Linked DNA regions of Homo sapiens: all the other regions are linked to region 1. The links come from fine-mapping of genetic effects on gene expression. A gene starts in region 1. Each other region holds a variant in brackets. All regions are shown on one strand. Distances are between the middles of the regions.

Region 1 (8,183 bases):
ACTTGAGGTCAGGTGTTCCAGACCAACCTGGGCAAATACAGAAGGCCCTGTCTCCACAAAAAATAAAAATAAAAACTGTATTTAAAAAAAAAAAAAAAGAGGCTGGGCGCTGTGGCTCACGTCTGTAATCCCAGCACTTTGGGAGGCCAAGGTGGGCGGATCACCTGAGGTCAGGAGTTCGAGACCAGCCTGGCCAACATGGTGAAGCCCTGTCTCTACTAAAAATACAAAATTACCCAGGTGTGGTGGCACATGCCTGTAATTCCAGCTACTTGGGAAGCTGAGGCAGGAGAATTGCTTGAACCTGGGAAGCGGAGGTTGCGGTGAGCTGAGGTCATGCCATTGCACTCCAGCCTGGGCAACAAGAGCGAAATTCTGTCTCAAAAAGAAAGGAGTCAGGAAACTCAGGGAGATCATACCTGCTGGTGATGGTTTTAATTTTCTTTCTTTTTTGGGACAGGATCTTATTCTGTCACTGAGGTTAGAGTGCAGTGGCGTGACCACAGCTCACTACAGCCTTGACCTCCTGGGCTCAAGTGATCCTCCCACCTCAGCCTCCCAAGTAGGTGGGACCACAGGTGCATGCCACCAAGCCTGGCAAATTTTTGTATATTTTTTGTACAGATGGGGTTTCACCATGTTGCCCAGGCTGGTCTCAAACTCCTGGGCTTAAGCCATCCTCCCACCTCAGCCTCCCAAAGTGTTGAGATTACAGGCATGAGCCATTATGACTGGCCCGGTTTTAATTTTCTAATGTAGCAGGAAAGGAAGTGATATAATAACATCTCTATCTCTTGACCAGACTGTCAGGTACTAAAAGATAAGCAGTGACCCATTTCCCACAGTACAAAAGACATTTTACTGCACATAATAGGTATTTGATAAATGTTTGCATAACTGAATTGAGTTCCAAGATTATGGATTGGTGAACTAATGCCAGCAGCTACTGATATCAACTGGAAATTTAGGCAGGATATAAACTTTTAAAATGGTAAAGGAGACATAAAAATCCAAGGATCCGGAAACTATATTTATTTACCTGTACACTCTTTGTAAATCAGACGCTAAGACTCCAATGTCCACATATTTGCCACATTTGTTACTGGTAAGGTACTAAAACAGAAAATATAACAAATACAAAACACCCAATATTTCAAACTCAGTGATTTTAATCAACAGATTGAGCTATCTGAACACATTATACTTTAAGATAAACTCTTCGTTAATAAAGTGTACCAGAAACATAAATAAAAGTAACCAAATAATTGTCAAATATGAAATCAGAAAATTTAATTAACATTATTAATCACTATAATACAATACTAATAATTATCAGAATAGTTATAAGGCAGTAAGTGAGGGCTTACTTACTAATATCCTAGGTTTCCAAACACCCCAGAACACTGCAGTAAACTCATAAGGGTAGGAGGGGATATTTTAAACTTCAAGGAACACAGTGATATTTGACATCTGTCAGATACTGCAGAACTACTAGCTTGAGGCAATTTAGTTTCAATATTAAATCACCTTTTGGCTGGGCATGGTGGCTCATATCTGTAATCCCAACACTTTGGGAGCCCAGGAGTTTGAGACCACCCTGGGCAACAAAGTTTGACCTCATCTCTACAAAAAAATTAAAAAGTTGGTTGGATGTGGTGGCTTGTGCTTATACTCCCAGCATTTTGGGAGGCCAAGGTGGGAGATCGCTTAAGCCCAGACTTAGAGGTTGCAGTGAGCTATGATCGAGCCACTGCACTCCAGCCTGGATAACAGAACGAGACCTTATCTCAAAAATAAATACATAAATAAGCCCGGGCGTGGTGGCTCACACCCGTAATCCCAGCACTTTGAGAGGCCAAGGCGGGAGGATTGCTTCAGTCCAGGTGTTCGAGACCAGCCTGGGCAAGGTGGTAAGATCTCATCTCTACAAAAAATTTTAAAATTAGCCAGACATGGTGGTGCATACCTGTGGTCCCAGCTACATGGGAGGCTGAGGTGGGAGAATCACTTGACCCCACGAGTTTGAGATGGCAGTGAGCAGTGTTCACACCACTGCACTCCAGCCTGGGTGACAGAGCTAGACCCAGTCTCAAAAATAAAAAATTAAAATTAAATTAAATATATAGCTAAGTGAAAATTTATTTAAAATATTGTGTAAGACTATCTTCAGGCTATGTGTGTAAGGTGTATATGAAACATAAATAAACTTCATGTTTAACTTGGGTCCCATCCCCAAATATCTCATTATGTATATGCAAACATTCCAAAACCTGAAAAAAATCAATCTGAAACATTTTTTGGTCTTAAGCATTTAGAATAAGGGATATTCATTTGTACTTTTATAATGAACCAAAGTGAAAGCTATAGAGGAAAACTGATAATGTCAAACGCTGAAAAGAGTCAAGTGTGAGGACAGAGAAGAGGCCACTAGATCCAGTAATTAGGAGTCACTGCTCAGAAACCTCAATAAAGTGAAGGAGCAAGTTGTGGGACGCGGGAACATCCAGAGGAAGAGTAATTCAGAGTGACTGAACAACGAGAACAAAGGTCCTGTGCTTGGCATGTTTGAGAAGGTCTGTGTGGCTGGGACAGGAGAGGAAAAGTAAACTAGGACAACAGAGGCCAGAATATGCAGGGCTTTTCAGACTGGGTTTTACTCTAGATGTCTGTGACTCCACTGAAAGGTTTTGAGCAGGGCTATGGCAAGCTCTGATTTCCCCCCCCTTTTTTTTAGTTATACTTTAAGTTCTGGGATACATGTGCAGAACATGCGGGTTTGTTACATAGGTATACAGGTGCCATGGTGGTTTCCTGCACCCATCAACCCGTCATCTACATTAGGTATTTTTCCTAATGCTATCCCTCCCCTAGCCCGATTTTTCCCTTTAAAAGGATGTCTTGGCCACGCCTGTAATCCCAGCACTTTGGGAGGCTGAGGCGGGCAGATCACCTGAGGTCAGGAGTTCGAGACTAGCCTGGCCAACATGGTGAAATCCCATCCCTACTAAAAATACAAAAAGTAGCCAGGCGTGATGGCATGCACTTGTAATCCCACGTACTCGGGAGGCTGAGGCAGGAGAATCACTTGAACCCAGGAGGCAGAGGTTGCAGTGAGCAGAAAAAAAAAAAAAAATTAGATGTCTCTGGCTGCTCTGTGGGGAATAGGCTTTAGGTAAAAGCAGAATCAGAGAGATCAGTTAGGAGGCTATTGTAATAGTATAAGGTAGAGATGATGGTTTGGACTAAGATGGTTACAGGGAAAGACAGTAAGAAGTACTTGGAATATATTTTGAAAGTAAAGCCAACCAGGCTGTTGACAGATGGTATACAGGAAATGAAAGACTCAGAATGATCCTTAAGGTTTTTGGCCTTAACAACAGGACGAACGGTAGTATCATTTACTGAGATACAGAACACTAAGAAAGGGCAGATTTGAAGGAAGAAAAAAATCACAAATTCCACTTGGCCATTTTAATTTGGAGATATGCTGACTAGGCAGCTGGATATATCAATCTGTACTTCAAGATAAAATCTGGACTGGAGATATAAAGTTAGCAGTCATAAATATACAGAGGCCAGTGCAGCAGCTTGCACCGGTAATCCCAGCACTTTGGGAGGCTGAGGCCCGATCGCTTGAGCCCAGGAGTTAGAGACCAGCCAGAGTAACATAGTGGAACCCCGTCTCTACAAATAATAATAATAATAATAAATTAGCCAGGTGTGGTGGTGCACACCTGTAGTCCCAGCTACTGGGGAGGCTGAGGAGGGAGGATCACTTGAGTCAGGGAGGCCGAGGGTGCAGTGAGTTATGATTGTGCCCATAAACAGCCACTGCACTCTAGCCTGGGCAACAGAGCGAGACTATGTCTCAGAAAAATAAAAATAAAATGAAATAAATACATAGATAATAGAGTATGTAGATACTACTCAAAGGTTATTACACTAAATGAGATCACATAGGAAGTATGGATAGATAAGAAAGGTGTATGAGGAAAGAGGAGGAAGGGGAGGTAAGAGAACAGTGGCACAGAGCACTTCCAACATTTACAAGTTGGTAGGAAAAGATGGGTCCGAAAAGGAGATTGTTTAGGGGCTGGTGAAGTGAAAGAAAAACAAGGAGAATGTGTAGCTCACAAATTCCTAAGTGAAGAAAATTCTCTCCCACCTTTTAACTCAGACTGCTTGCTTACATTCTGAGGTATTTGCCACACACTGCTTTTTACTGATGGTCATGAAAATGAGAAAACCGTAGGCAAAGTGCCTGTTACTGTTGCCAGACCCATGTTATCTCGTTTTAGTGTGTAAGTTCCTTGAGAACGGAAATTAACATATTATTTATGCCACCCCTTCTCAAGGACCTCTTACAATGCGAGCGTTTGAAGACCATTCCTGTGCTAACTTCACAAGCCAAAGAGGTTAAAATTCAAAGGCTACCTCCACTCTACTGAATGATCTGCGCTGAAGACGACCAGACAACTTGGGCAGCCCTACCAAGCTGCACCCTCCCACCATCCCCGGCTTCTCCCTGAGACTCCGCACCAACGTGGGTAGGGAAGGCCCCGGCAGCACCAACTAAGGAGAAACAGACGCACGCCCAGACCCAGACTGGGGAAAGAAGACTAGTTGAGTTCCACCTGGATGCCACCCGACAAAAGGGGAGTGGCACCCTGGGGCAGCGATCGGGGCCCTTGGCGAGGCCAAGCGGTGCAGAATACACACCTGGATGACTCGCTGCTTGAGTTTATTATCCACGAACCCTGCAGGTCTGGGCTTCATCGCGTCGGTCTTCCAAGCCACAGCTCGGACCGCCAGCTCCTAGTCAACCGGGGGCCTCGTAGGGGTTGCCCGCCGCGATCGCCGGGCCAGTTGCACCTGAAATGCGCCCCTCCTGGGGCCTAGCCCGCGCCGTTTCCGTCAGAATAAAAGTAATGCGAATGAAGGGGAAAAAATTCCGAGGAGAGGGAGAAGACTTGAAAACCTCAGGGAGTTTCTAGGGGCCTTATTTTGCAGGCCTGCCCAGTGGACCCTGGAAGATTAGGACCCCTTTGAACGCGCTCAACTTTATTGGTTCCCCGCCGGGCGAACCAGGTGGGAGGAAGTTCCTACCCCGGCGCGGTGTGCGGAGACGCTGTCAACGGCGTCCTCTGGAAAACTTGGTTTGCTTTCCTCAGGCGTTCCAGCCACACCTCATTCTGATACAAAGCTAGTCTTCGCAAAACCAGCCACGGTAGATACTTGGAGTGATAAAATCAGGGTAAAAACACACCACCAGCCGCTGCTTGCTTTCCCACGTAGTTATCTTACATTTTAGAGGCCCGACAAAAGGGCTAGGTGAAAAAGAAAAGGAAGGACGGATTTATCCAGATAACTAAGTCATTTGTTACTTTTAGAACTCGTTTGACTTACGCTGTTATCATCGGCAGGTAATTTGTTGAATATATCCAGTGCAGGACTCCTTGGCCCAGAATTTTATCAAACGTTTGTATTTGCCCCAAGAAGTTTATCCTGCACTTAGGGAGACACAAAGGGACAGTTACCAAGCATTAAAAAAAAAATGCTGGCTTTAGTTTCTGTCTTCTTGTTTATTTCAACCGTGTTTTGAGTATTCTTATTTCAGGTCCTCCTTGGCTTATGACAAGGTTAAGTGCAGTGTATTAAGGGGCAGAGGGGAGAGAAAATGGAATTAAGAGAAGGGCGTGAGGCCGGGCACGGTGGCTCACACCTGTAATCCCAGCACTTTGGGAGGCCGAGGCGGGCAGATCACTTGAGGTCAGGAGTTCACGACCAGCCTGGCCAACATGGTGAAACCTTGTCTCTACTAAAAATATAAAAATTAGCACTGAATTAAGTATTAGATTTCCCACTCAAAATATTGATCCGTTTGGTTGCAACTTCATTTCCTACTTCTTCACTATGTGTAGTTTTATTTTTTATTTTTTTAGTTGTAAAATATAAGAACATTCACCATCTTAAACATTTTAAAGTGTGCAGTTTAGTGATAATACATTCATAATATGCAACCATCACTGCCATCTAGTTCCAGAACTCTTTTCATCTTGTACAACTAAAACTCTATACTAATTAAAAAATAACTCCCCATTCCTCCCTCCCCCCAGCCCCTGGCAACTACCATTCTACTTACTGTCTTTATGATTTTGACTACACTAACTTCCTCATATAAGTGGAATCTTCCAGTATTTGACTTTTGTGACTGGCTTGTTTCTTAGCTTAATGCCCTCATATAGCATGTGTTAGAATTTCCTTCTTTCTTTTCTTTTTTTTTTTTTTTTTTTTTTGATACAGAGTCTTGCTCTGTTGCCCAGGCTGGAGTGCAGTGGCGCAATCTCAGCTCACTGCAACCTTCGCCTCCTGGGTTCAAGAGATTCTACCACCTCAGCCTCCCAAGTAGTTGGGACTACAGGTGTGTACCACCACACCCGGCTAATTTTTTGTATTTTTAGTAGAAATGGCGTTTTGCCATGTTGGCCAGGCTGATCTCCAACTCCTGACCTGAGGTGATCCACCTGCCTTGGCCTCCCAAAGTGCTGGGATTACAGGTATAAGCCACCGCACCTGGCCTTTCCTTCACTTTTAAGGCTGAATAAAATTTGGCTCTTTTGTTGCCATTCTGCCTTTTGCCATGGGATGACACAGCAAGAAGGCCCTCACCAAATAACAACTCCTTGATATTGGACTTTCCAGCCTTCTTGCATTCATTCAACAAGTGTTTATTGAGTGCCTACCAGTTTCAGTCTCTGCTCTGCGCTTTAGGCTTGTGGGGAAAAGTGGAAGAATTATAACTAACTTTTTATAACATTTAAAAAATTTGATTAGGTATTTATGTGCTTGATTAAATGTTAGCAAAGATTCCCTACAGCATATAGTACAAATGTAGTCAATGCTCAGTAATTTTTAAAATGAAATGTAATTCTGTGCATGCCAAATGTCCAACATAGAATGAAAACACACTGAGGCCAGGCATGGTGGCTCATGCCTATACTACCAGCACTTTGGGAGGCAGAGGCAGGTGGATCACCTGAGGTCAGGAGTTCAAGACTAGCCTGACCAATGTGGTGAAACCCTGTCTCTATTAAAAATACAAAATTATCCGGGTGTGGTGGCCCATGCCTGTAATCCTAGCTACTTGGGAGGCTGAGGCAGGAGAATCACTTGAACCTGGGAGGCAGAGGTTGCAGTGAGCTGAGATTGCGCCATTGCACTCTAGCCTGGGCAACAAGAGCAAAACTCCATCTCAAAAAAACGAACAAATAAACAACCACATTGAAAGGCCTAGTAGTATCATGACATGTACTAGGCAATATAGTTTATTAGTCTATAATTTGTCATAGAATACTATCCTACACTTAGGGTTGACTTCATGGGTATGTGACCTCTGCAGTCACACAGGGCCCTGTGCTCAGAAGGGCCCCACAGGTGGTTTAATGCTGTACTGTTGCCATCTTGAAATGCTTTCTGAATAAGCTGTCCCTTATTTTCATTTTGCACTGGGTCTTACAAATTATGTAACCAGCCATTCATATGTAAACTTGAAGTACTCTAGAATGCTGCCTTCTTCTTCTTTTTCTTCTTTTTTTTTTTAGGTGGAGTCTCACTATATTGCCAGGCTAGAGTGCAGTGGTACGATCTTGGCTCACTGTAACCTCCGCCTCCCGGGTTCAAGCGATTCTTCTGCCTCAGCCTCCCAAGTAGCTGGGACTCCAGGTGCATGCCACCATGCCCAGCTAATTTTTGTATTTTTAGTAGAGACAGGGTTTCACCATATTGGCCAGGCTCGTCTTGAACTCCTGACCTCGTGATTCGCCTGTCTCGGCCTCTCAAAGTGCTGGGATTACAGGCATGAGCCACTGCACCCAGCCACCTCCTTCTTAAAGGCAGGGAATGTGTTGTTCATCTCACTACTGCTTCAGGTGCAGAAGGCAATAATTGAAAGTGAATTAATACTAGATGATAATATGCTTGAACATTTCTCGTTGGAATTATTTCATCAATTATTGCCCTGAAGACCATTTTACATTGATTCCAATGTTTGGATTTACAATATCATGCATCAAAACCAAAAAGATTACTGAACAGTAACCTAAGTGCATATACACTTTAAGCACTTCCTTTTTTAATTGAAGCATCCTCCATTCTTTGGTGGTGTAACCCCACCTAGTGGTAGT
Region 2 (8,183 bases), 25 kb before region 1:
GGTATCACTAAATCTACTTTAAATATTTAGCCATCATGCATAGCAAATTACCATGTTTATATTAATAAAAGAATGGCCAGTGAGTGGGTTAACAAATACTAGCATCAGAAAAAGCAGGATCTTTAATATAAGCTGGTAGCGTCTGACCACCTGGCATTAGTCATTAACTGACTCACCACAGCTTGCTCAAATAGTTCTCTCAGCTTCTGCTCAGACTCTCCGGATACTCCAGACACAATCTCTGGAGCAGCCACTTTCAAAATTGGCAGGTCAAGTTCCTATGCAGACACATAAAAGAATAACCAAATATTCAAATTTTAATTTCCCTACTTTTTCTTATCCAGTCCCCTCAAATTTTTTAAATAGCTAGTTTCCTGAGGAACTTCATCTTTTTATGTTGGCCCAGTGAAAAACACTATTTGAAAATCAATGGTTTTGGCCGGGCATGGTGGCTCAGGCCTATAATCCCACTACTTTGGGAGGCTGAGGTGGGCGGATCACCTGAGGTCAGGAGTTCGAGACCACCCTGACCAACATGGAGAAACCCCATTTTTACTAAAAATACAAAAATTAGCCATGCATGGTGGTGCATGCCTATAATCCCAGCTACTTGGGAAGGCTGAGGCAGAAGAATTGCTTGAACCTGGGAGGCGGAGGTTGTAGTGAGCCGAGATCGCGCCATTGCACTCCAGCCTGGGCAACAAGAGCAAAACTCCATCTCAAAAAAAAAAAAAATCAACGGTTTCATGCAAACACATTTAAGTGGATACCTTCAACTTGTTTTTATTTTATACATGTCACTATAAAATTCTATTATCTTTTCTGAATAAAGGGTCTTGACTTTCAAGAGGTATGTTATCCCCACTTAGGGCTGAGCCAAAGCAATTCTTCGTTTTTTTTGGAGAGACTGTGTCTCACTATGTTGCCCAGGCTGGTCCCAAACTCCTGGCCTCAAGCCATCCTCCCAATTCAGCCTCCCAAAGTGCTGGGGATACAGGAGTGACCATTCCTGGCCTATCAAAACAATTCTTACCCATCTGCTAAGGAGAAAATAGCAAGGGTTGTGACACAGATGTTTCCCACACATTCTGCTAGTATTTCTCCAAATCCTAACCCAGAGAGTAGCCAGTTACTAGTCAGAGGAGGGAGACTCTTTAAGAAGAGGCCAGGTGTGGACGCCCATGCCTGTAATCCCAGCACTTTGAGAGGAGTTTGAGACCAGCCTGGGCAACACAGTGAGACCCCACCTCTAAAAAAATAATAAATTAGCCAGGCATGCTGATGCATGCCTGCAGTCCCAGTTACCTGTGAGGCTGAGGCAGGAGGATCATTTGAGCCTGAGAAGTCAAAGCTGCAGTGAGCTGTGATCATGCCACTGCACTCAGCCTGGGCAACAGAGAGAAAATCTGTTTCAAAAAAAAAAAAAAAAAAAAAAAGAGAGAAGAGAGACTACTGTTCTCCCATTCTTGTGCTTATCTTGAAATTTCACTTCCTCAACCATACCTTCCTTGAACCCAACTCTAATTTGGGAATCCTAACATACCACATACCATTTTGCACTTCTTCTTGTCTTCCATTTATTATAGTCATTATTATGTACAGCATTTATTTATATGAATGACTGTTTAATGTCTCTCTCATATTAGAACTACGATTGTGGTACTTAACACTATATTCCAAAGTCTGGCATGCAGTAGTCAGTCATGTAATGGAATTATTAAACAAAAATGAAGCAAACCAATCAAGTCCCCCTTTACAAATGATTTTCTTTCATAGAACATTATTGTATTAGCGCTTGGTATAACATGCTATTTTTCTTTTTTCTTTTTTTTTTGAGATAGAGTCTGGCTCTTGTTGCCCAAGCTGGAGTGCAATGGCATGATCTTGGCTCACCGCGACCTCCGCCTCCAGGTTCAAGTGATTCTCCTGCCTTAGCCCCCAAGTAGCTGGGATTGCAGGCATGCGCCACCACACCCGGCTAATTTTGTATTTTTAGTAGAGATGGGGGTTTCTCCATGTTGGTCAGGCTGGTCTTGAACTCCCGACCTCAGGTGATCCACATGCCTCGGCCTCCCAAAGTGCTGGGATTACAGGCATGAGCCACTGCGCCCGGCGAGCATGCTATTTTTCTAATCGAAGTTACTCGGATATTTTACATTACTGTCCCCTACAGTTTCTGAAAAATCTGAGAGGGTTAAAATAAGATTGCTAACTTTTAATTTCTCAAAGTAAGTGTCTATTATTACCATTTTAGAAAGAATTATTTTAAAACTAAAAAGTATAAGAACATGACTCTAAATAAAAATTTTGAATAAATTTAGCTATATGAAAAATAATATAACCCTAGTTTTCTTATTTTACTGCTCCTTAGAACCACTGGGAGGGCAGGTGCAGTGGCCCATGCCTGTAATCCCAGCACTTTGGAAGACTGAGACAGGAGGACTGCTTGAGGCCAGGAGTTTAAGACCAGCCAGGCAACATAGTGGGCTTCGTCTCTACAAAAAAACAAAAACATAAGCTGGGCGTGGTGGTATGTGTCTGTGTTTCCAGTTACTCGGGAGGCTGAGGTGGGAGGACCACTTGAGCCTGGGAAGTTGAGGCTGTAGTGAGCCATGATTGCACCATTGCACTCCAGCCTGGGTGACAGTGAAACTCTGTCTCAAAAAAATAAGTAAACTGAAATAACTATTGGGTTAAAGGGAAAGCAAAGTAACTAAAATGTAAGCTATGTGTTAATAAAAAGGTTTGTTTAAAACCGTATTATTATGGCCGGGTGCGATGACTCACACCTGTAATCCTAGCACTTTGGGAGGCTGAGGCAAGTGGACTGCCTGACCTCAGGAGCTCAAGACCAGCCTGGGCAAGAGGGTGAAACCCCGTCTCTACTATAATACAAAAAATCAGCCGGGCGTGGTGGCGTATGCCTGTAGTCCCAGCTACTGGGGAGGCTGAGGCAGGAGAATTGCTTGAACCCGGGAGGCGGAGGTTGCAGTAAGCCAAGATCACGACACTGCATTCCAGCCTGGGTGACAGAGTGAGACTCTGTCTCCAAAAAAAAAAAAACTGTATTATTTTACTTTTTATCTAACTCTTGCCATATAAACAATTACATACATTAAAAAAAAAAATCCCTCAAGTTGCTCGTGAGAAACAATAAATAAACTAAATGAATAAATTCCACAAATAATACCAGCATGATAACAAAGGGATCAGTTCCAATGACTATGTTCTCTTCCTGAAGAATGCCATGTCTGGTTTAAGTTGACCAAAGAGAAAAAACAAAAACAAATAATAACAACAAAAACAGCAAAAGCAAACAAATGTCAGCAAGCCTCACCCCAGCAATTGCATGTGCAAGTAATGTCTTCCCACAGCCTGGTGGTCCATGAAGGAGAACTCCACGAGGGGGCACGACGCCCAGGTGGTGGTACACCTCCGGGTGACGCATGTGTATGAGCATCTTGCAGACCTCCTAGCAGAGGATAAGCACAAAGATGTCTTTCAAGACAGAACAATCAAAGTAGAATGAAATGTCCTATTTTTCGGAGCAGTGAAATGGAGTAGATAGGTAGAATATACACCTTAGACTTAGATCAGACTTTGAATCCTGGCTCTGGTACCTACTGTGTGATTTCAGCAATAACCTCTCTGAGGAGCTATTTCCTAAGCTGTAACATTATATACCTTGAGGATGTAATGCAAAGTTAACTAGCATGGCAGATGAAAAAGAGTAGGCATTAAAAATAAAGTTACCATTACGGCCAGG[C/T]ATGGTGGCTCACGCCTGTAATCCCAGCACTTTGGGAGGCTGAGGTGGGCAGATCACGAAGTCAGGAGATCAAGACCATCCTGGCCAACATGGTGAAGCCCTGTCTCTACTAAAAATACAAAAATTAGCTGGGCGTGGTGGCACATGCCTGTAAACCCAACTACTCGGGTGGCTGAGGCAGAAGAATCTCTTGAACCTGGGAGGCGGAGGTTGCAGTGAGCCAAGATCGCGCCACTGCACTCCAGCCTGGTGACAGAGCTACACTCCTTCTCAAAATAAATAAATAAAATAAAATAAAAAATAAATAAAAATAAAGTTACCATTACTATTAGTATTGCTAAGACAATATTACTTATAAAGCATGGATCTTATATATACTATAATTAAAATAATAGAAAAGTTCAAAATAGTATGCATCTTTTCTCCTGCAATGCCCTAAAGGGTACAGGTCAGGTTTGCCCTTCTCAACCTTCCCAGTTTCCTTTTCTACACCCAGATCATATTAGAAACAAAGAGGTAGGCTTTTTCCTCATAACTGATTAGTAATATATCCATTTGAGGTAAAATTCAGAATTTGCACTAACTTTTAATGTCATATCATTGCCTCCCACATCTTCAAACTTCACGTTGGAGATCTGGAATTCTAACCCCCTGGCTTTAGCTGGTAAACAAAAATGAGGAGATGAAAAGATTAATGATTCAGTAGTAACTCATAATTATAATGAATAGTCTTTAAGTAAACAAAGGTCCATTAAATATAGAAATATTTCCTGGTAAACATTTCTGCACATAGAAGGTCCCTCAAGCAAAATAGCTTGGGACAGAATGATGCTTCTCTCACTGCAAACATGACCACTGCCACCAACAAGACTCACACCTTACCTTTCTTTTGCAGGACAGCTTCAATTTCTCCATCTACTTCCTGAAGATCTTCTTTCTTCCTTTTGCTTCCTTTATTCTTTAGCTTGCCTTTCCGTTTCATATCACTCTCCAAAAGAGAAGAATCTTTTGAATCCTGGAAAGAAAATAAATTTAAATATGCCATGCTTAAAATTCTATGCCAATAATTGTTTTACTTTTTAAAGAGGGGCATTGTAAAGAAAATTCATTCCTGCCCTAGCACTTTCACCTCTGTTAACTATTCCCAATCTCTTTGCTCAAAGATGCTGTCTATTGTGAAAGTCCTTCTCCTCATTCCCTTAAAGCTCAGTTTAAATCTTAACATTTGGTGCTGGCCTTGGCAGCACATATACTAAAATTGGAATGATACAAAGATTAGCATGGCCCCTGTGCAAGGATGACATGGAAATTTGTGAAGCATCCCATATGGGGAAAAAAAAAAAAAGAAAAAAGAAATCTTAACATTTGAATGCCGCTTCTTTTCCAGATTCTTTCAGTTAGAGTTTGTTTTTGTTTTTGTTTTGAGACAGAGTTTCAGTCTTGTCACCCAGGCTGGAGTGCAACAGCGCGATCTCAGCTCACTGCAACCTCCACCTCCTAGGTTCAAACAATTCTCCTGCCTCAGCCTCCCAAGTAGCCCACCACCATGCCCAGCTAATTTTTATATTATCAGTAGAGATGGGGTTTTGCCATGTTGGCCAGGCTGGTATCGAACTCCTGACCTCAGGTGATCTGCCCACCTCAGCCTCCCAAAGTGCTGGGATTACAGGCGTGAGCCGCCCTGCACGGCCCTCTTTCAGTTAGATTTAATCTTGTCCTCACATTCCCAAGACACTGCATTTGCAGCTATTATCAGTTGGAATAATCTGCCTTGTATGAGTGATTCACTTATCTCTGTCTTTCTCACTGAATTGTGAGCTCCTTGATTAAGGACACTGATATTTGCCTTTTATTTCTCACTGAGTCTTCTATATAGTTGTCTTCATCTGACAGCTGATGATTCACTAAATTAAATATAACTACAGAGCTGCTTTGACAGTCATAACAAAGTGTAATTCAGCCAAGCACACTGGGACACACCTGTAGCCCCAGCTACTTGAGAGGCAGAAGGACCACTTGAGCTCAGGGTTTCAAGGCTATAGTGTTCTGTGATCAAGCCTGTGAAAAGTGACTGCACTCTAGCCTGGGTGATGTAGCAATATTCCAACTCTTAAAAAAAAATTTTTTTTTTTTGAGACGGAGTCTCGCTCTGTCACCCAGGATGGAGTGCAGTGGCACGATCTCAGCGCACTGCAAGCTCCGCCTGCCGGGTTCACGTCATTCTCCTGCCTCAGCCTCCTAAGTAGCTGGGACTACAGGCGCCCGCCATGACGCCTGGCTAACTTTTTGTATTTTTAGTAGAGACAGGGTTTCACTGTGTTAGCCAGGATGGTCTCAATCTCCTGACCTCATGATCTGCCCGCCTTGGTCTCCCAAAGTGCTGGGAATACAGGTGTGAGCCACTGCACCCGGCCAAAAAAAATTGTTTTTAAGTATGATTCAGGCTGAGGTGGGTGGATCACTTGAGCTCAGGAGTTCAAGACCAGTCTGAGCAACATGGCCAAACGCCATCTCTACAAAAAATACAAAACTTAGCCAGGTGTGGTGGTGGGCACCTGTAGTCCCCAGCTACTTGGAAGACTGAGGTGGGGGGATGGCTTATGCCCAGGGGGTGGAGGTTATAGTGAGCCGTGATCATGCCACTCCACCATGTCAGTCTGGGTGACAAGGCAGACCCTGTCTCAAACCAAAAAAAGTATTTCAGCATTAAGACTCGAGTTCTTGCCAACCATAACAATGTTCCCTATAGATGGATGATATGGATAATTAAAGCAAAGAGATTTGGAAAGGCCTATTAATAAATAAAAAGGGGAAAGGTTCTGCCAAATCAAAGGGCTTGGTTCTTAGAAATCAGTTGAAGCATCATTGTCCATGAGGAATATGTGAGCCACATATGAAATTCATTTAATAATCTATTTTACTTAACCCAGTATATCCAAAATATTATCATTTCAACAGTCAATATAAAATATTATTAATGAGATGTTTTACATTCTATTTTTTTAGTGAGTCTTCAAAGTCTAATGTACACTTTAAGTTAATAGCACATCTCAATTTGGACCCTAAATTTTCATGGGAAACACCTGATTTGTACTTAGAGTTTGTAAAATTTACAGCTGAGGAAATAGATTCACATACCTAACAGGGTGGTAGGAGATGAAACTGAAAAGAAAGTCAGGCAGCGAAATCATAAAGGACGTTAGTGGCTGTCACAGGCCTTTGGATTTGAAACTGAATGAAGCCACTGGAGGGTTTTAAATAGAAGAATGATAATATGTGGTGGCTCACGCCTACAATCCCAGAACTTTGGGAGTCCGAGGCGGGTGGATTGCTTGACCCCAAGAGTTCAAGACCAGCTTGGGCAACCCTGCAAAACACCATCTCTAGAAAAGATATAAGTTAGCTAGGTGTGGTGGCACATGCCTGTAGTCTTAGTTACATGGGAGGCTGAGGTGGGGGATGGCTTGAGCCTGGAAGGCAGAGGTTGCAATGAGCCAAGATCACACCACTGCACTCCAGCCTCAGCGACAGAGCCAGACCCAGTCTCAAAAAAAAAAAAAAAAAAAAAAAGCTATCTCTCTGTGTAAAGAATAAACTAGGGGAACAAGAAAGGACACAGACTCCAGCTAGAAGGCTGTTTCAATAATTAAGTCAAGAATGAGAAAAGGCTTAGACTAGGATAGAAAGAATGGAAAGCAGTGCAATGTGATCAAATTCTCCATATATTTTAAAGTTCCTATGCCTTCCACAAAACACAAGTATCTGATTGATATTATATTCAACTAAAAGGTTGAAATGTACTTCGATGATATGGGGCTAAAATTTCATTACAAAAATACCTGTATCTCAGTTATTGGCTTCTTAGGATTACTTTTCTCACATGACAGGTCCAAGAAAAAACTGTCTTTCTTTACACTTGGGGTTTTGTCAATAAACCATCCTCCTTCAGAATCTTTGGCAGGGGTCTTCAAGGGAATGGAGCCTGTTTTGGAACTTATCCGTGGTGTTGAAGAGGTGGTTTCTCTTTGCTCCATCTCAGGAGTATTTGAAACAGAATCAGGATTTCCTTTCCGATATAAAGACAGCAGGGAACTGTTCATGTGATTTGCTGACTGGCAGAAAGATAAAACAAAATTGTAGCATAAATTACTCAACAGGTACTCATAAAAGTTGTATTGCCTATAGTAATAAGTTTTCTATATTTTGTTTTTTAACAACTTCTCTCAGAACATTTATAATCAGAATATATAGGTGTTAGGCTGGGCACAGTGGCTTATGCCTGTAATCCCAGCACTTTGGGAGGCCGAGGTGGGCAGATCACTTGAGGTCAGGAGTTCAAGACCAGCCTAGCCAACATGGTGTAACACCGTCTCTAGTAAAAATACAAAAATTAGCCGGGCGCAGTGGTAGGCACCTG
Region 3 (8,183 bases), 100 kb before region 1:
AATACCATCTCACCCAAATCTATTTGGCTTCTCAGCTTTGGAAGGTGAGTAGTGCAATTTCAAATAGTGAGGGATTTGTCCAAAAAATGTATCCAAATCTGTTCAGTTCCTGAGTTCAAACAGTGAGATCTAGAATAGTGACAGATACAAAGTATAGAATACTATACTTTTACCTAAGTTATATCTACTTATACTTTTTAGGGTAATAAGGCATTTTACAACATTTTTACCTTTTGGAAATAAGATCTTCCAGTAAATACTACTTGGACATGTTTTCAGCAATAACCTACATACAAACATGAGAGACCACCTGCTTCTTCCCACTGACACCAGCCCCTCCCTTATCCAGGCCTTTGTTCTCTGCTCAGGTCATTTACCTCCTTCCTTCATCTTCTTTGCCTTCAGGATTCCGCTGACACATTGCATTCTTGGGAGAACCTTCCAATTCCAATTATGGACTAGCTGCTCCTACCCTGTGCTCTTCGCTTGGTGACTATTCTTATCCCTTTTCAGCCCTTCTCACACTGTTTTGTGACTGTCTCTTTATCTGTATTAAGTTGGATATGAATTTGGCTCCTTTCACACAGACCAAAATATAAATAGCTTAAGCAATATAAAGATCACACACACAAGTGAGGCAAATGACCATCTGAGGGTTGAGGAAACTCTGCTGCAAGGGTTGCCCACGATCCTGGTTTCTTGTGTTTTATTACTTTGTCATTCCCTAGGATGTTGTCTCCATTTACAAGGCCAAAACAGGTTCATCATCAGCTCATCACTCTCTAGTCCCGGGAAGGGCAGCATGGAGTTAAAATGACAGGTAGCACCTTCTTTTTTAAACAAGTTATGACTTTTCAAGGACATAGCCAGGGTCTTTGCTTCTGGGAGAAGGTGTGTTGAGTTCAATGTAGGCTGCCCTGAGTTAATGATGGGTTAATGCAACCCAAGTCACTTCCTTATAAGGATGTAACCAGAAGCTGTTCCCATCGCTTCTGTTTATATTATACTAGCCAGATGTTTGTTAGTCACTTTCCTGGCAGCAAGAGCCCTTCTTACTAAAAGGTAGAAGAAAAGAATGGACATTATAGGGCGATAAGCTCTCTGCCACACACACCACACTGGGCATTAAGTTCTGAGTTTGTTCACCATTATGTTAGTAATGCTCAGTACAAAGTGTTTAATGAAATGGCTAAATCTTTGACAGTGCTAGAACAGAGGACATAATTCCGGGAGTTTCTGAACAGAGGACTGGATCTTTTTCACAAGAGAAAGAAAAGTTAGACCGCTGTAGACCAGAATTCAGACTGTTCCGCGAGTCCCCTTGAACAGGCTCTGAACCTTGTTCTTTTTGATGATATGGGGATAACTCTATTTGATCCCTAGTATGAGTTGGGAGCGTTAAGATAACATTTGGCAGTGTGTAGTACACAGATCATGCTGAAAAATATGATCTTCCCTTCCATTTGCAGAAGTGCTGGCAACATCCACTGTCACACTACCTGTCGCAGTATCTGCCTGCTGTTCAACATGTACCATACCTGACTGGCAAAGCCAACGAACACGCAGCCAGTCTGCTCTCTTATGCGTTCTACATTTTATGTCGAGGTTAAGCTAAACTACCAGCAAGTTGGATACTTAGACCTAACATTTAATAGTCAAGAAGATTTTTGCTTTTTCTCATAACCCACATCTATGATATACCTGACTGTGTTTCTCAGGATTGGGTGGATGTCAAGCAGAGTTGAATCTGCTCCTCAAATTTAAGACCTTCTGGTGCATATTCCAATTTTCCCTTCATTCTTTTTTTTTTTTTTTTGAGACAGAGTCTCACTCTGTCACCAGGTTGGAGTGCAGTGGCACGATCTCGGCTCACTGCAACCTCTGCCTCCTGAGTTCAAGCAATTCTCTTGCCTCAGCCTCCCGAGTAGCTGGGACTACAGGCCATGCCACCACACCCAGCTAATTTTTGTATTTTTAGTAGAGACGGGGTTTCACCATATTGATCAGGATGGTCTTGATCTCTTGACCTCGTGATCCGCCCGCCTTGGCTTCCCAAAATGTTGGAATTACAGGCGTGAGCCACCGCACCCGGCTTCCCTTCATTCTTAATCACCTACCTTTAGTATGTGATCCTGATTTGCCTTTTTTTTTCTTTTTTGGTGTTCCCTCTTCTGGTGTCCTAAGGTACCCTCTTCTTCATGCCCTTTCACTGGGCATGGTCATACTCTGCTGAGATGTCTGAATCCTTCTGCGAACTCCTCAGAAAAACGACTGTGTTGGCTGGGCACAGTGACTCACGCCTGTAATCCCAGCACTTTGGGAGGCCAAGGTGGAAGGATAACAAGGTCAGGAGATCGAGACCATCCTGGCTAACACGGTGAAACCCCGTCTCTACTAAAAATACAAAAAATTAGCCGGGCGTGGTGGCAGGCACCTGTAGTCCCAGCTACTTGGGAGGCTGAGGCAGGAGAATGGCAGGAACCCGGGAGGTGGAGGTTGCAGTGAGCCGAGATTGCACCACTGCACTCCAGCCTGGGCAACACAGCAAGACTCCGTCTCAAAAAAAGAAAAAAAAAAAGACTGTTTTATTGACCTTTGTAACCCTGATTTGCTTTTAGTAACATTTTTTCACCACATTCTTTTTGTAAATTTTTTTTTTTTTTGAGACAGAGTCTCACTCTGTTGCCTAGGCTGGAGTGCAGTGGTGCGATCTTGGCTCACTGCAACCTCCGCCTCCGGGTTCATGCGATTCTCCTGCCTCAGCTTCCTGAGTAGCTGGGATTACAGGTGCCTGCCACCACGCCCGGCTAATTTTCATATTTTTAGTAGAGACGGGGTTTCACCATGTTGGCCAGGTTGGTCAAGAACTCCCGACCTCAGGCGATCTGCCCGCCTTGGCCTAGTGCTGGGATTACAGGCATAAGCCACCACGCCTGGCCTTGTAACATTTTTTTTTCTTTTTGTAGAGATGTGGGGGGTCTCACTATGTTGCCCAGGCTGCTCTCGAACTCCTGAACTCAAGTGATCCTCCCACTTAGGCCTCCCAAACATGCTAGGATTACAGGCATGTGCCACTGTGACTGGTCCACATTCTTAAAAGTAGCCTAAAAATTTTTGTAGAATGAGGTGAAGTAAAAATTTAAGAAGAAAGAAAAGTAGGTAACCCGACCCATCTATATATAACTTCCGGATATATTGTGAGCAACACTGTAAATTATGAGTTGAACACAACAAAAATCAAGCCCTTCACAAAGTATTGCCTAGGGACTCATCAAACATATAGAGGCCAAAGGAGAGTCAAATCTGGGACAGTTTGAATATCATAATGATAATAATGGATAATATATTAAAAATAGTAATACTTGACTTTGATGAGGAATGGACTTTATAGAGTTTCAAAGTAACTTCCCATAAAATACACATACATTACAAAGTGAAAAAAAAAGAGTAAAGAGTAACTTTGTAGTGTGAGAAACCTGGAAGAACTACCTCAAGTGATCACAGTGAACATCATGAGTAACAGGACAAACTGAAATCGCATGCCACATGACAAGCGCACAGTGTCACTTTGTAATCTGCCAAAGATGCATAACTTGAGTCTAATCACAAGGAAAACATCAGACACATCCACACTCAAGGAATTTTACAAAGTAACTGGCCTGAAACCTTCACAAGTGTCAAAAGTCAAACCTGAAGAAATGTTCCACGCTTAAAAGAGATTAAAGAATGTAGCAACTAACTGCAGTGGCCTCCTTTTAAAGCAGTGGTCCCCAACCTTTTAGGCTCAGGCACTGGTTTCGTGGAAGATAATTTTTCCACAGACAGGGTCAGGGGAGGTGGTTTCAGGAAGAAACTGTTCCACCTCAGATCATCAGGCATCAGATTCTCATAAGGAGGGTACAACCTAGGTCCCTCAAGTGCACAGTTCACAACAGGGTTCACGCTTCTATGAAAGTCTAATGCTGCCACTGATCTAACAGGAGGTGGAGCTAAGGCAGTAATGCTCGCTCGCCCACCACTAACCTCCCACTGTGCGTCCTGGTTCCTAACAGGAGACAGATAGGTACCTGTCTCCAACCTGGGGGTTAGGGACCTGTTTTAAAGGACATTATCAGGACAACTAGAGGAACGTGAATGGAGGAGGATTAGATGGCAGTGATGTATCAATGTATTAATTCCCTGACTTTGATGGTGGGTTATGTAGGAGAATATCTTCAAGTGTAGAAAATACACATGACAGTATTTGGGAGTGATAGGGCATCAGGTTGGCACTTATTCCTAGATGGTTGTGGAAGGCGGGGGAGGAGATCTCTGTAACTTTTCTGTATAGTCAAAATAGTTCAAAGTAAAAGTTTTATTTGAAAAATGTAACAGTCATTTTATTTCAGCAGTTTAAAAATTGTCCTTTTTCTTAAAGAGGAAGAAGGCATTTTCACACAAGGCTGGCCAGATGGGAAGAATCTTCAGCTTCAGCTTCAGCTTGGCCTCATTCATTTGAAAATAAAATGTTTACATGAGGCCGCGCCTGTGTCCAGCTGAAAGTGGGTCCTTCAGAGCGTGTGGGGGATTCTCTGCC[G/A]GCTTGATGGGCTAGCTCCTCTAAGCCGGCTGCTGGAGACATCACCGGCTGAGGGACTCCTGCAAACGTTCATACATGATTTGATCCTGAAAGGAGGGAGAACACAGAATACAGAGACCGTCACTGCTTGTTTTGGGCTGAATGGTGCCCCCCAAAATTCACATGCTGCAGTCCGCACCCGCAGGACCTCAGAATGTGATTGTAACTGGAGAGAGGGTCTTTATAGAGGAGACTGGATTAAAATGAGGTCATACAGGTAGACTCTTATCCAATATGACTGCTCTCCTTACAAAAAGAGGGGATTAGGGCACAGGAGGGAAGAGCATGTGCGCAGAGGGAAAAGCACATGCAGGCGCTGGGAGAAGACAGCCATCAGTGAGGACAAAGGCTCCAGAAGAACCAATCCTGCCCAACACTCTCCAGAACTGTGAGAAAATAAATTTTCCACTTTTTAAGCCACCCAGTCTGTGGTACTTTGTCATAGTAGCTCCTGCTGACTAACTTACTGTTGAAGAGAGGTGATATTTTACCTTCCTGCATCTAAATCCTAATCTAAATCCTACACATGCTCCTTTCCACAGGGGACTCCATGACATTCACAATCGTTGACTCAAGTTTTCCTAAAAAATCAGGTCAAGAGTCTTATGTCTATCTAATTAGTGAAGAAAGCACAATTCTAAACTACACTGAATCCAGATGGAAAGGAGGCAAAGGCAGAAGCTTCTTTTTTTGTTTTTTGAAACGGAGTCTCACTCTGTCGCCCAGGCTGGAATGCAGCGGTGCAATCTCGGCTCACTGCAATCTCTGCCTCCTGGGTTCAAGGGATTCCCCTGCCTCGGCCTCCTGAGTAGCTGGAACTACAGGTGCGCACCACTACGCCCGGCAAATTTTTTGCATTTTAGTAGAGATGGGGTTTCACCATGTTGGCCAGGATGGTCTCAAACTCCTGACCTCATGATCCACCCGCCTCGGCCTCTCAAAGTGCTGGGATTACAGGTGTGAGCCACTGCGCCAGGCCGGGAAAGTAGAAGCTTCTTACACTACATTAACATTCATAAGAAACTGCCAGAATGGGCCGGGCGCGGTGGCTCACACCTGTAATCCCAGCACTTTGGGAGGCTGAGATGGGTGGATCACGAGGTCAGGAGATCGAGACCATCCTGGCTAACATGGTGAAACCCTGTCTCTACAAAAATACAAAAAAATTAGCTGGGCATGGTGGCGGGCGCCTGTAGTCCCAGCTACTCGGGAGGCTGAGGCAGGAGAATGGTGTGAACCTGGGAGGCGGAGCTTGCAGTGAGCCGAGATCGCGCCATTGCGACAGAGCGAGACTCCGTCTCAAAAAAAAAAAAAAAAAAAAAAGAAATTGCCAGAATGTTTTCCAGTGTGGTTGTATCTACATTTTCAGCAACAATGTATAAGAGTTCCAGGCCAGGCGTGGTGGCTCAGGCCTGTAACCCAGCACTTTGGGAGGCTGAGGCGGGCCAATCACCTGAGGTTGGGAGTTGGAGACCAGGCTGACCAACATGGAGAAACCCTGTCTCTACTAAAAATACAAAAAATTAGCCGGGTGTGGTGGCACATGCCTGTAATCCCAGCTACTCGGGAGGCTGAAGCAGGAGAATAGCTTGAACTCAGGAGGCAGAGGTTGTGGTGAGCTGCGATTGTGCCATTGCATTCCAGCCTGGGCAACAAGAGTGAAACTCTGTCTCAAAAAAATAAATAAATAAATAAATAAATAAAAAGAGTTCCAGCTGTTTCATATCCTTGCCACCATTTAGTGTTGCCAATATTTTAAATTTTAGTCATTGTGGTAGGTGTGTAGTAGAATCTCACTGTGGTCAAATTAAAAAAAAATTTTTTTTTTTGAGACGGAGTCTCAATCTGTCGCCCAGGCTGGAGTGCAGTGGTGCAATCTTGGCTCACTGCAACCTCTGCCTCCCAGGTTCAAGCGATTCTTCTGCTTCAGCCTCCTGAGTAGCTGGGACTACAGGTGCGCAGTAGCTGGGACTACAGGTGCGCGCCCAGCTAATTTTTGTATTTTTAGTAGAGATGAGATTTCACTATATTGGCCAGGCTGGTCTTGAACTCCTGACTTCGTGATCTGCCCGCCTCAGCCTCCCAAAGTGCTGGGATTACAGAAGTGAGCCACCGCGTCTGGCAAATTAACATTTTAAATGTTGGGTGGCAATTCCACTCCTGTGTATTCATCCCAAAGAAATACTTGAAGTGTGTTTTTTCTTCTGTGTTTATTTGTTTGTTTTTGAGACAAGGTTTCGTTCTGTAACCGAGGCTGGAGTACAATGGTGTGATCATGGCTCAGTGTAGCCTCAACCTCCTGGGCTCAAGTAATCCTTCTGCCTCGGTCTCCTAAGTAGCTGGGACTACAGGTGCATGACACCATGCCTGGCTAAGTTTTAATTTTTTTGTAGAGACAGGGTCTCACCATGTTGCCCAGGCTGATCTTGAACTCCTGGGCTCAAGCCATTCTCCCACCTCTGCCTCCTGAGTAGCTGAGATAACAGGCATAAGCCCCTGTGCCCAGCTCCAGAGTGATTTTTTTTTAACCCTTCTCCCACCTATGGTGAAGATGTTTTTATTTCCCTGAAATGTATGGGTAAGTCCCTATGGCTTAGTTTGGGTACAGTCTAGCTCCAAGAAATACAAAGCCATTTATCAAAAAGCGTAGAGTAGGTCAAATAATACTTGAATCAGATGATTAAAATTCTGAGATTGTGGGCTGGGCGCAGTGGCTCACGCCTGTAATCCCAGCACTTTGGGAGGCCAAGGCGGGTGGATCACGAGGTCAAGAGTTTGAGACCAGCCTCACCAATATGGTGAAACCCTGTCTCTACTAAAAATACAAAAAATTAGCCAGGCATGGTGGTGCGCACCTATAGTCCCAGCTACTCAGGAGGCTGAGACAGAAGAATCGCTTGAACCCAGGAGGCAGAGGTTGCAGTGAGCCAAGATCATGCCACTACACTCCAGACTGGGTGACAGAGCGAGACTCTGTCTCAAAAAAATAAAAAAAAAATCTGAGATTGTGGAGGCAGAAGAGGTCATTCTCTTTCTGAATAAAGTTGTTAGAGAATCTAGTTAGGAAAACTGTGTTCTAGTCCCTAAGAAACATATAAAATTAAAATCTCTCAAGAACATTCTCACAAAGGCAATTATTTTGCTTGTTTTCAGATCAAAATGAACCATGTAATTTCTTTTTAGGAAGTAGAAGTAGTATACAAAACAATCTGTAAAAGAGTTTAATTCAGCCGGGCGCGGTGGCTCACGCCTGTAATCCCAGCACTTTGGGAGGCAGAGACGGGCGGATCACGAGGTCAGGAGATCGAGACCATCCTGGCTAACATGGTGAAACCCCGTCTCTACTAAAAATGCAAAAAATTAGCCGGGGATGGTGGCGGGCACCTGTAGTCCCAGCTACTTGGGAGGCTGAGGCAGGAGAATGGTGTGAACCCGGGAGGCAGAGCTTGCAGTGAGCAGAGATCGCACCACTGCACTCCAGCATGGACGACAGAGCAAGACTCCGTCTCAAAAAAAAAAAAAAAGAGTTTAATTCATGAGGTCATATCTACTGGTCTAAAATTCTAGT

What was found. PIP is the estimated chance that this variant, and not a neighbour inherited with it, causes the effect.
Region 2: its variant is fine-mapped to the expression of NVL in whole blood (TOPMed, PIP above 0.99).
Region 3: its variant is fine-mapped to the expression of NVL in whole blood (INTERVAL, PIP 0.92).

The regions. Positions count from the first base shown.
Region 1 is chr1:224,325,352-224,333,534 of GRCh38, forward strand. NVL (nuclear VCP like) reads right to left here and starts at 4,821. Exons shown (of 23, transcript NM_002533.4): 1 at 4,720-4,821; 2 at 1,040-1,113. The coding sequence starts at 4,776. RefSeq lists enhancers at 4,389-4,528, 4,579-4,628, 4,819-4,868, 4,889-5,038.
Region 2 is chr1:224,300,386-224,308,568 of GRCh38, forward strand. It overlaps NVL (nuclear VCP like), which reads right to left. Exons shown (of 23, transcript NM_002533.4): 6 at 7,606-7,878; 7 at 4,649-4,781; 8 at 4,351-4,427; 9 at 3,338-3,472; 10 at 177-278. It also overlaps the pseudogene RNU6-1008P. Among named protein-coding and RNA genes, the nearest start is that of NVL, 26 kb to the right of the region's middle. The variant C/T (reference allele first, on the strand shown) is at 3,767.
Region 3 is chr1:224,223,009-224,231,191 of GRCh38, forward strand. NVL (nuclear VCP like) reads right to left here. Exons shown (of 23, transcript NM_002533.4): 23 at 4,337-4,662. The coding sequence ends at 4,618. It overlaps LOC101927164 (a long non-coding RNA gene), which reads left to right. Exons shown (of 3, transcript NR_110668.1): 2 at 406-820; 3 at 4,418-5,035. Among named protein-coding and RNA genes, the nearest start is that of MIR320B2, 30 kb to the right of the region's middle. The variant G/A (reference allele first, on the strand shown) is at 4,577.